Linked DNA regions of Homo sapiens: region 2 is linked to region 1. The links come from fine-mapping of genetic effects on gene expression. A gene starts in region 1. The other region holds a variant in brackets. All regions are shown on one strand. Distances are from middle to middle.

What was found. PIP is the estimated chance that this variant, and not a neighbour inherited with it, causes the effect.
Region 2: its variant is fine-mapped to the expression of BEGAIN in blood mononuclear cells (TOPMed, PIP 0.91).

What each region holds. Positions count from the first base shown.
Region 1 is chr14:100,585,016-100,590,375 of GRCh38, forward strand. It overlaps BEGAIN (brain enriched guanylate kinase associated), which reads right to left and starts at 2,402. Exons shown (of 7, transcript NM_001385089.1): 1 at 2,234-2,402. The coding sequence starts at 2,275.
Region 2 is chr14:100,544,199-100,549,558 of GRCh38, forward strand. It overlaps BEGAIN (brain enriched guanylate kinase associated), which reads right to left. Exons shown (of 7, transcript NM_001385089.1): 3 at 2,303-2,464; 4 at 802-868. Among named protein-coding and RNA genes, the nearest start is that of BEGAIN, 41 kb to the right of the region's middle. RefSeq lists an enhancer at 2,731-2,860. The variant T/C (reference allele first, on the strand shown) is at 2,654.

The DNA of each region.
Region 1 (5,360 bases):
GAACACTCTACACTCTCCCCATCACCTTCAGGCCTTGGGCCAGGCTCCTGTAACACACCTTGACCCCTTCATCTGTTCAGCAACTACTCAGCCCTTGGACCCCACCTCCTGGGACCCTGGGTAATGATTTGTGGACTGTGTCCAATAGCCATGGACTCATGGGCTTCAGTCAATCCCTCCCATCCATCCATCCATCCATCCATCCATCCATCCATCCCTCCCTCCCTCCCTCCCTCCCATCCATCCATCCATCCATCCCATCCATCCATCCCTCCCATCCCTCCCATCCATCCCTCCTTCCCTCCCTCCCATCCATCCCTCCCTCCCTCCCTCCCATCCATCCATCCCTCCCTCCCTCCCTCCCATCCATCCATCCCTCCCATCCATCCCTCCCTCCCTCCCATCCATCCATCCATCCATCCATCCATCCATCCATCCATCCATTCATCCATCCATCCACTCTTCAGCATCAGGAGTGCCTGCAGGAGTAGGGAAGCTCCTTCAAAGTGTTGCCGTGGAGATGATGCGTGGAAATGCTGATCCAGGGCCCAGTACATAGCAGGCGTTCCATAAATGGCAGCTATGTGGGCCAGACCCTGCGCCCAAGTCTTGGGAGAGTGGATGGAAGATCTTCCAGATTGCTTAGGGCTCATTTCCTCTCTCCAGGCCTGGGCTCTGACAGGTGTCCCCCTACTCCACCCCAGCGCATGGAAAACTCATCCTCCAGGCTGAGGTTCTAGGCAGCCCTCCCCTCCCCACTCAGCTCCCAGGTGCGAACAGCTCCAGGTTTTGACGACAAACGGAACGCGGAGCCTTGGAATCTATAAATATGAGACAAAAGCTGGGGAGGGCCCTTGGCGGCAGCGCAGCCGCCCATCGCCCAGAGCCCGTGTGCTGAGCCCGGGCAGAGCCGCATCTGCCACAGTGCTTGCTTTTCCAAGCTGCCCTGATTATAGTGAGAGTCGGGAAAATTAAGGGTTTGCAGGATGCTGCTGGGGCCCTCTCTGCCGTCTCCCCGCCCTGCGTGTCACAGATGCCAGGCAGAGCCACCCCCAACGGCCAGTTGCCCCTGCTGGCAAGACCAAGGCCAGCCTGGCAGGGCTGCACACCGCAGTTTGTTAGGGGCTTCTGCCCACAGTCCTCGTGGGAGCCTGGCCCTGGGAGTAGTGGGGGTCTCTGCTGCTCTTGGCAGGCAGAGGAACTAGGGTCCAGAGAAGGAAAAGAACCTGTCCATGGCCTCCAGAGAGCCAGAGCACTGGGGCCTCCGACGGAGCCTGGCTGTGGAGACCCCGCCCCACCCATACCCCCAGGGCCTGGACCCCCAGTCTGCACTGGCGGCCGACCTTGGCCATGCGGACTTTGCACGTGCAGTGCTCCCTATCCATCCGGCCCCGCTCCCGGGTGCCCACTCTGCTCCCATTCTGCCGGCTCAGGAGACTCCAGCGCGTCGCCCACGCTGTTCCTGCCCTGAGGAAACCACATTGGGGATGGGGTGGGGCACAGACGAGGAAGGAAACACCTCTAAACCAAGCAGGAAGCGGAAACGCTGGGGCAGAAATTCCCATCCAACGTGCTGGGGCTCAGGGAGGGTGAGCGCGCCGGCTGAGCCGCTCTGGGCGAGGCCCTGGCCTCCCTGAGCCTCAGTTTCCTCGCCTGTAAAGGGGCAGGAGGATAGTACCTGCCGCGAGGTACTGAATGGGATGGTGGTGTCCGAGGTTCGTGCGCGCCCACGCGCTGCAAACGCTCAATGAGGCGGCCCCGGGTCCAGCCTCCTTCCGGCTCCCGGGCCTTTCTCCGGCCTCCCAAGCAGGGGCTGGCCCTGCCCCCAGACGCAGGCGGGTCCAGGCCTGCCCGCACCCTCGCCACCCGCCCGGGACAGCGGCGGGTCCCCAGTCCTCCGGCCGCGCCCTTGGTCACCCGTCCCTCCTTTCCTTCCGCCGCAGGGGCGCGCGTGTCAGGGCGCAAGGACCCCGCGATAGGACCCGGGCGCTCCCGGCGGCGCGCGGAGGCTGGGCATCCCCGCCCCACCCGAGAGTGCCCAGTTCCCAGGAGACCCGGCCCGGCTCCTCCCGGGCCAGTGAAGCCTCCACGGCGGGGGCGCAGCGCGGAGGGGAGCGGGGCGGGGGGCCGGCCACCTCCCGCGCTGAGCAGGGACCGCCCCAGGCGTGGGTGGCGCCCGCCCCGCCTCCGCGCCCGCGCCCGCGCCCTGCCCTCCCGGCTCGCAGGTACTCACCGCCCGGCGCAGCCGGCCCGGCCGGCGACCGCCAGTCCACATGGCCCCAGGGCAGCCGCGCCGCTCACCGCCGCCGCCGCTACCGCCGCCCCCTCCCCTCCGAGGCCGAGCGCGCCGGGAGCCGGCGCGGCCGGGGCTCCCCCACCCCGCCCGGCTTCCCGCAGGGAGCGCCCGCCCCCCGCCCCCAGCCCGGCTCCCCGCCAGCCCCGGCCCCGCGCAGCCGCGGCTGAGCCCGCGCGTCCTCCCGGCAGCGCCCGGCCGGGGCGCAAGTGGTGGGCGCAGGGCCGGGCAGGGGCGCGGGGGTGCGGCGTGCGCGGGGGCCAGGCGAGGAATGGCAGAGGGGCAGGGAATGAATGAACCCGCGCCAGCTTGAATGGCTGAGCGCGTGAATGAATGAGTGCGGTAGAGCATGCGGGGCTGGGGGGGCGGGGGGAATGAATAAATGAGAGAACTAATGCACGGGCGCGAAGGTGAGTGACAGAGTGAATGGGCCCTTGAAACCCAGAGGCTGTCAGTAATGACCTGCCCAACCTTTTCATCGGTCCATCCATTCAATCCCTCAACATTTATTAGACACCTAGTGTGTACCAACCAGCCCTGCTGTAGGCCCCAGGGGGTACAGTAGCGAGTGAAACCAAGCTCCTGCCCTCGCAGAGTCACATTTTACAGATGAGGAAACCCTGGCTCCCAAGGGTGCCTCCTGGCCAAGCTGCCCCTTACCCTGCCCTTGCTCTGCCCGAGCCCCCAGTCGGTGGCTTCCAGGGCTTGCCTTCTCCCCAAGGAGCTCTCAGGAAGGGAAGGTGGCTTCAGGAGGACCAGTGTTGCCCCCTGCCTATCCCTCCAGTCTGAAGCATCCCACCGACCTGCCCGGTAGAGCCCAGGCTGGCCAGTCCTACCCTGGTAAAGGTGCAGCGTGAACCCTCCTCTCTCCTCCCAGAGCGGGCAAGGGGCAGCCCTGAGGGTGCCAGCTACATGAGGGTCTTCCATCCCAGCCAGCCCAGCAGCAGCCAGCGTGGGAACCCGGGGAGGAGCACTGGCAGCCAGGGAGGGTCCTGCGTGGTGGAAACAGAGCTGGCAAAGCCCGTGTGCTTCGCTCATATCCTCCCTCGGGACCTATGGGCTCATGGTTCACACATGCTTATATCATTTCCAAGTACATGGCAGATTAGAAGATGCTGCGAATGAGTACCTTGTATATTTTTGTTTTTTAATTGTGGAAAACATGGAAAACATAAAATTTACCATTTTAACCACTTTTAAAGTGTACAGTTTGGGGACACTGAGTTCCCACTGTTGAGCTGCCATCACCACCATCCTTATATGCTGTATGTTGTATGCTTTGCAGTTTCTACGCTCTCTCATTTAATCTGGGGAGTAGGTTGCTACATTCAGGCAGTGTCAGTGCTGAGAAAAGGCACTGATAGCAAGGCAAGAGGGGAAACCCAGAAAAAAAGGAGACAAGCAAAAGAACCAGCAGCTGACTGGAGCCACTTCGTGTCAAGCAAAGTCCTGTCTCTGCTCCCTCTCAGGTCCCAGGGACATGATTGGGTAACCAATGGACAGAGGGAGGCGCCTCCAAGTGCACCCCACCACAGTCAAGACAAAATGAGAGGCGGCAGCTCAGGGCGGGGCTCTCCCAGTTTGGGCGAAGCGTGGACAGACTTCGCCCAAACCGTCGCTGGTGTGCACCACGGGACCAGCCTCTTTGCTCAAGGGGGCCTTAGTCTCCCCAGCAGGAGTAGGGACAGGCTCCCTGACCTCCACTCTGGCCTCTCAGGTTCAGACACCATTCAGGCAGCACACAGCAGTGGAGGCATCCTGTGAGAGGTAGTGAGGCCCAGCCTGCCAGCTCCAGTGTCCCTTCCCTCCCCAGTCCCTAAGGGGACAAACACCAATGGGGGATGTGGAACCTGGGGTACAGGCAGGGCTCTGCCCACATTGCCTCCTCCTGGGCTGCGGCCCTTCCCCAGAGGCTGGTCCTGCTCAGATGGTGCCAGAATGTTCACCGCCCGCCCTGGCACTGCTGCTGCCAACGCCACAGATGGCTGGGGAGGCGGGGGAGGGGCGGGTGGGGTGGGGGCGGCTCCTGCTTCAGCTCCAGCAGCTTGCAGGCTTCAGCTCAGGCCTGCCTGGGAAGGCCCCAGGAGAGCCCCTCCCCCATGCTGCACGCACCTCCCGTCCCCACCCTCCCTGCCCTCTCTTCTATCCTTCCCACTCCAGCCCCCTTAAGCTAGGAAGGCGGAGAGAAAGCAGGCATTGGTTGTGGGTCTGGGAGCATCCCTGCAATGCCCCTGTAGGGGAAGTGGTACTAGCCCCTTTTTGCAGATGGGGAAACTACAGTCAGTGCAGCAGAGCCTGGGGCATCAGGCAGGCTTCCTGGAGGAGGCAAGGTTTCAGCCGGGTTGGGAAGAAGGGATGAAAGTGGCAGGACTTCGAGGTGATGCCCTGGGGCCATGGAGGACCCTCTCCTCAGGCCCCTGCCCTCATTCAGACCTCTACGGACCACTCTGTTTGACATCACCATCCCCATGGCTCAATCTCGTTGCCCTATTTTGTTTTTTGCGTGTCTCTTACTGCGTTCCAGAGCTATCTGATCTGTCTGTTGATGTGGACATCAATCTCCCCGCTGGGATGCGTGGTCCTCTACTGTGGTCAGGGAGCAGGGCAGGAAGTGGCACCACACTGGGGCTCATGGTTAAATGTGCCAAAGAATGCATGGATGGATGGAGGTGGGGGAGATAGGAATAGCCTGGTGTGATGCCAGGCTTCTGGCCCTGGTGGCTGAGTATAAAAGAAAGGACAGCACGTCAGGGAAGTCATTGACAGTGAGGCACCCGCAGACAGCCACATACAGGGGCTCCAGCATCAGCTAGCCATGCTGACCAGTTCCCTGCCTCATCTTCCAATCCCCACCCACAAGAACAGATTGAGCAAGGGTTCTGACTATGAGCCCTAGAGAATGGGAAGGTGAGAGGTATCTTCCCACTCTCCCACAAACAACAGGTGCTCCAACTGAAACTCTGGAGTCCCCTGCAGAATCGGGCTACAGCTGCCCTCCACAGGTGGTGAGAAGGCCCTGAATTGGCCCAAGTGTGTATCTAACAATGACCCCAACTGCAATATTAAC
Region 2 (5,360 bases), 41 kb before region 1:
GTGCAACACAGAGGTGACAGCGTCCTGCCTCAGGAGCTGGGAGTGGGGACGGAGGACAGATGACTTGTGCCTGGCATAGAGCCCAGCCCACCTCACTGGACAGATTGGGAAACTGAGGCTCAGGAAAGGGCCGGTGTCCAGGCACCCAGGCAGAGCCAGGCCCAGCCCCCAGGCCTGCCACCCCCCGTCTCTGATAGCACCACAAAGGTGGGCAGGTTGTTGCTTTCAAAACCAAAATGAGCTGGTCACCAAAGTAGAAAGAAAGGAAACCTCTTCATCCTAGTGAGGGAGTGGCACCAGAAACCCACACCCTGCCCCTCTTCGACATGTCCCAGCAGTGTGTTCACAGAGAAAATGGCGACCCCACTGAGGTCACCTGCAGGTGGTGTGAGGGTCCCCACAGAGGGGTCCCCATGAGAGGCGGAGCTGGGGCTCAAACCTGCCTCTGGCTCACCCAGGGCCTGAATTCGGGCCTCCCTATCCTCCTGGGCCCAGGTCCTTGGACTGGCAGGCTGAGCTGGGGGGCCCGTTCCCAGTGTATGTCCTCCGTCCACAGCCCCTCTTACACACCCCCAGGCTGGAGTGCTCGCACCCGCCACTCAGGCAGCACAGGGCAGCCCTGGACCCAAGTACTTCCTTAGCCTGAGAGCACACACCCTGCTCCACATGTTCCATGGAGAAAGGGGTGGGACCAGCAAGACCTGTGTCCCAGCTCCTGAGTGGCCCAGGGGTGTCAGCTGGGTGGCTCCCCCCGGGAAGGAGGTGTGGGGTGGGGGAGTGGGCGCTGCGTGGCGGCCTCACCATGCGGTACAGCTTGTCCTCCAGCTCCTGGTTGATCCTCTGCAGTGCCATGTAGTTGCTCTGAATCCTGGTGCAGGAGGCAAGGGGGTCACTGCCATGCAAGGCCTGTCCCTCCCACGACCCTTATGGCCGCACAGCCTGCTGAGCAGGGTGGGGCTGAATTTGGACCTCCTGAGCTCACCCCACCAGCTTCACCCTGGTGGAATGTGTGCCCCTCTGCACACAGCAGAGAACATCCCATTAAAGCAAACTTTTGTAGAAGCCTTTCCTAGGCCAGGGCCCAGGACTGTATTTCCCCCTCCACCCCGGGACCCCCTGAAGATGGGAAGGGAAGGCTTGTTATTCACAAGAGACTCTGTCCCATCCACACGCGGAGCCAGTTTACTCACATTTGACCCACAATTCTTACAAACCTGTTATGGGGTTGACAGTTCAAATGCAAATGAGCAGGGAAGAAACTTAACACTAACTATGTGATGGGCCCCAGGGTGAGGCTGGAGACATCACAGTGAACAAGACTCGGTTCTGCCGGGTAGGAGGAGTGGAGCTGAGTGTCAGGTGGGAATCAGGTGCTTGGAGATTCCATTGCTGGTGGGAGGGGGCTTGGGGATGGTGTCCAGCCTCAGACAACCTATGTGTCGTGTTATGGCCCCTGTCTTGCCAATAGGGAAACTGAGGTGAAACTTTAATTACTTAAAGCAGTAACTGGCAGGGCCCAGATTTTAACTGAGGTCTGACTGCACTGCCCAAGCTTGGTTTCCACATGAATGGAGGGTGACATTCAAAACACTCAGGAGCTGGGGCTGTTCGGAGAGGGACAAACCCTCTCCCTATGGCAAGTCCTCCCTAGGGGCAACACCAGCCGATTCTCTACAAATACCTAAAACAAATCAAGCCAACAGCAAAGGTTGCATGCTTCTTGCATTTTCTGTTTAAGAAGATGAGAAAGTGCATATTACATTTCAGAAAAACATCCATTTTAAATGTGCACAAGAAAACTGCTTTTAGAAAAGTTTGGTGTTTGAGGGAGTCCAGCACAACTGGATCGACACTTCATTAGCCCGTACGCGCTCAAGGGAAGGGTCCCTAAACTGGTTCATCTCCGGGCTAGACACAGCTTTTCCCATCAGGACCCAGGGAACCATGGCTGGGCCCCGGGTGGACCAGTCTGGGTCTGGAGATCTGCTGGGTTCAAATCCTGGCTCAGCTGCTCCATAGTGTGACTTTGGAGGAAGAGCTTCCCCTACCAGAACCTCTGGACTCCCCATCTGAGTGGAGTCAACAGCCAGGGTGAGAGGGGAGCACCGCGTGCGGCTTTCCGGGCCTCGGGCCCTGCCCCACCCCGGCCCTCGCCCCGCCCCGGCCCTCGCCCCGCCCCGGCCCTCGCCCCGCCCCGGCCCTCGCCCCGCCCCGGCCCTCGCCCCGCCCCGGCCCTCGCCCCGCCCCGGCCCTCGCCCCGCCCCGGCCCTCGCCCCGCCCCGGCCCTCGCCCCGCCCCTCACCTGCGCAGCTTCTCCGTGACCTTCTCCAGTTCCTCCTGCGCGCGCCGCAGCTCGATCTCCAGGTAGTGGCGCGTGGAGTCGAACTCGGTCTCGAGCTTCTCGAGCTTGTGTGTGGTGTAGGACAGCCGCTTGCGCAGCTCGCCCTTCTGCTCCTGCAGCGCGCTGCAACGACATGGCGGCGGCGGGCCGGGCCGCGGCGCTGAGCGGGGGAAACTAAGGCCCGCAGGCCAGCCGGGGCGTGCCGCACTAACACGCGAGTACCGGCGCGCGCGCGCGCGCGCACACACACACACACACACACACACACACACACTCACACACACCCAGCCTCCCGGGCGTCACTGAAGACCA[T/C]GGCGCCCCAGAGTCAGGGACTCTGACCCTGAGCCAGTCTGGCCTGGGCGGTTCCTCAGACTCCACCAGTGTCCCTCACACAGGTAAATCCCAGGTGGTGGCTGGAGGAGTCTTTGACCCCAGAACCTGGCCAGTGTGTTGGGGGCGGTTTAAAGGACCCAGGTACAAAGAGCACCCATCAGCACCCAGGCTATCACAGAGCTGGCCCTGGGTGGCACAGGTGACTGGGGCCCTCACTCCTGCTCCTCCACAGTGCTAGGTTGGGATGGCTGAGGCCCAGAGTCAGCAGTGCCATGCCCAAGACCAGACCTGCTTTCCCCAAAATGGCTGTGTGGCCCTGGGACCCTGGGTCACTTCTCTGGGCCAGAGAGATGTTTGGTGGCAATGTCCCATGCCCGGGCAGTGTCTGCCACCATGGCCAATGAGGCTGCATGCAGCACGGGAAACCTGGCAAGGTCCTGGCCTGCTCAAGTTCCCCTTCCTCCAGGAAGCCTTCCAGAAACCCAGACAATTCTTGAGGCTCTATTTTCTTCCCCCAGAATGGGGTCTCCTGGAGGGTAGGACCCCAGGATGCAGAGCCCCACATGCTCAGGAAACAGAGACCCACTATGACCCACTCTTCCGAGCCACCTGCCAACAATTCACCTGAACTAAAGCTGTGCAAAGGCAGGAGGGTAGTGTGGGGGCCTCCAACAGGGATGGCTCGGAGCTCCCCAAGGCAGGGGCTGCACTTCCGGTTGTCTGGGTCAGAGTGGGGTCAGCAGCCAGCAGTTCTTTCCTTGCAATGGGTGCACAGCCCAGGGGCTATCTGGGACCAACATCTTTTGGATTGTGTTGCTGTGAGATGGGGACGGGACAGGCAGAAGTCCCGGGTGTCATGAAGGAAACTTGAGGTGTGGGAGAGGGCCTGGAACCCTGACTCTGCCCAGATGTGCTGTGGGACCTTGGGCAAAAGCCCGCGTTCTTGTGATATTCCCGACCCAAACCCAAGCGAGGGGAGTAGAGGGCAGGCAGGAGGCTCCCAGTCCCCCTGGGGCCACCACTGTCCCCCAGCCCCGAGCAGAGGCATCTTCTGTCTGGGCCCCGTGAGTAAACCGCATGTGGCACTGCGGGCACACACCCAGCAAGCCTCCAGGAAGCACTCTTGGATTCCTGCCCAGGGCTATATTTTTAAAAACAAATAAAAATAAAGCGTCGCTTACGTTTTTGAGAACCTCAGAGAAGGGCAGGGCGGGTCTTCCCAAGAGTCAGTCACCACAAGAGGAAGTAGAGTAACAAGCAAAGAGGGAAGCCCTGAGGCAAAGTGCCACAGCTGCCCACGTGGGTCTGCCTCCGGGAGCGCTCTCTGGGACAGTGCTCAGGCCTCCTTCCACCTCCTCCAGGCAGCCTTCCGTGGCTGCCCCACTTCTAGCACTCTATAGCTACAGGTCCCAGGCTGCTTCCCACACAGACCTGTCCTCCCCAGGGAGGTGGTGAACTTCCTGGGGACTCCTATGCCATCCTGGGCTCCTAGGGCAGGCACAATGGGCTGCACAGCAGCCCCTGAAGTCGACTGTTCCCTGCAGGGGCTCCTGGTGTACCCACAGCCCTCGGGAAGAGGTGAGGGCGTCATCCATCCACCCACGTGGCCACCTCAGCCCCGAGTCCTCACCCCTTCTCCAGCCACACCCCAGGCCTCACTGAGCAGCCTTAGGTCCTTGCTATTCTGAGACCTGCACCCCTAGCTCACTGTGCCCCCTCACCCAGCCCTGCCCCTTCTGGGCACCCTGAGGTCCCTACCCTCACCTCTCAGAGCAAGCAACCTGTCTGAGACCTCACAGCCAGGAGTAAGACAAACCCTGCCCCTGCCCCGGGAGCCTGCGGTCCAGAGGGGAGGCAGACAATGAGCTAGGCAGGGATTCTCCACGGGGCAGGTGTGGGAGGGGAGGACGAAGGGGCTATGGGGTGGGCTCGGGGCAGACATCTCACAAGTCAGGCAGCTTCACAGAGCCTCAGTTTACCCCTGGCCTTTGGATGGCCTTCCAGATACAGCAGTCAACTCCCTGTTCCACCAGCCCTTAAATACTGCTCCCCCTCCCCAAGTCCTTCACACCCAACCACCTGCTACACCCAACCAATCTTTGGGCTAGCAGTGCCCCCAGCCCCTGACTCTCACACCCCTCTCTGCCTCAGTGTCCGCTTGCTGCAGGCATCGGGCCATGGACACGCACCCCGTCCCCAGGCATAGCTGATGCCCCGCACTTGGCCGCCCCAGGGTTCCTGCCACGTCTTTCCCCACCTCTGCTGGTCCGGCGATCACACCACAGGCCCCTCCCGACCTCGCCCGGGCTGTTCCCTGGGGCCCCGGTTTGCACCTGCACCCCTGCCCTGCATGCTCAGACCAAATCCCCTCCAAGCCAGCTGCACAGGGACCCCTCCCAGGTTTCCATCTGACTCCAGCGGGGTGTCTGTCAGGCTCCATACCCTCACCACGTCCAGCCACCCACCTATGGCCCTCAGGCATCTCCACACCCAACCCGTCCAATGCAGCCACATCCACCACACCTTCACTGCCCTCCACGTTCCCCACCCGGGGGGTGGGCATGGTGACCCCTCTTTACCCCTCACAGCCCTGTCACTAAGTCCTGGGGGTTCAGCTTCTCACACCTCTGAACGTGTCCCCTCTGCCCAGTCCAGGCTGTGTACCTAGGGTCTGCGGTCACCCGGG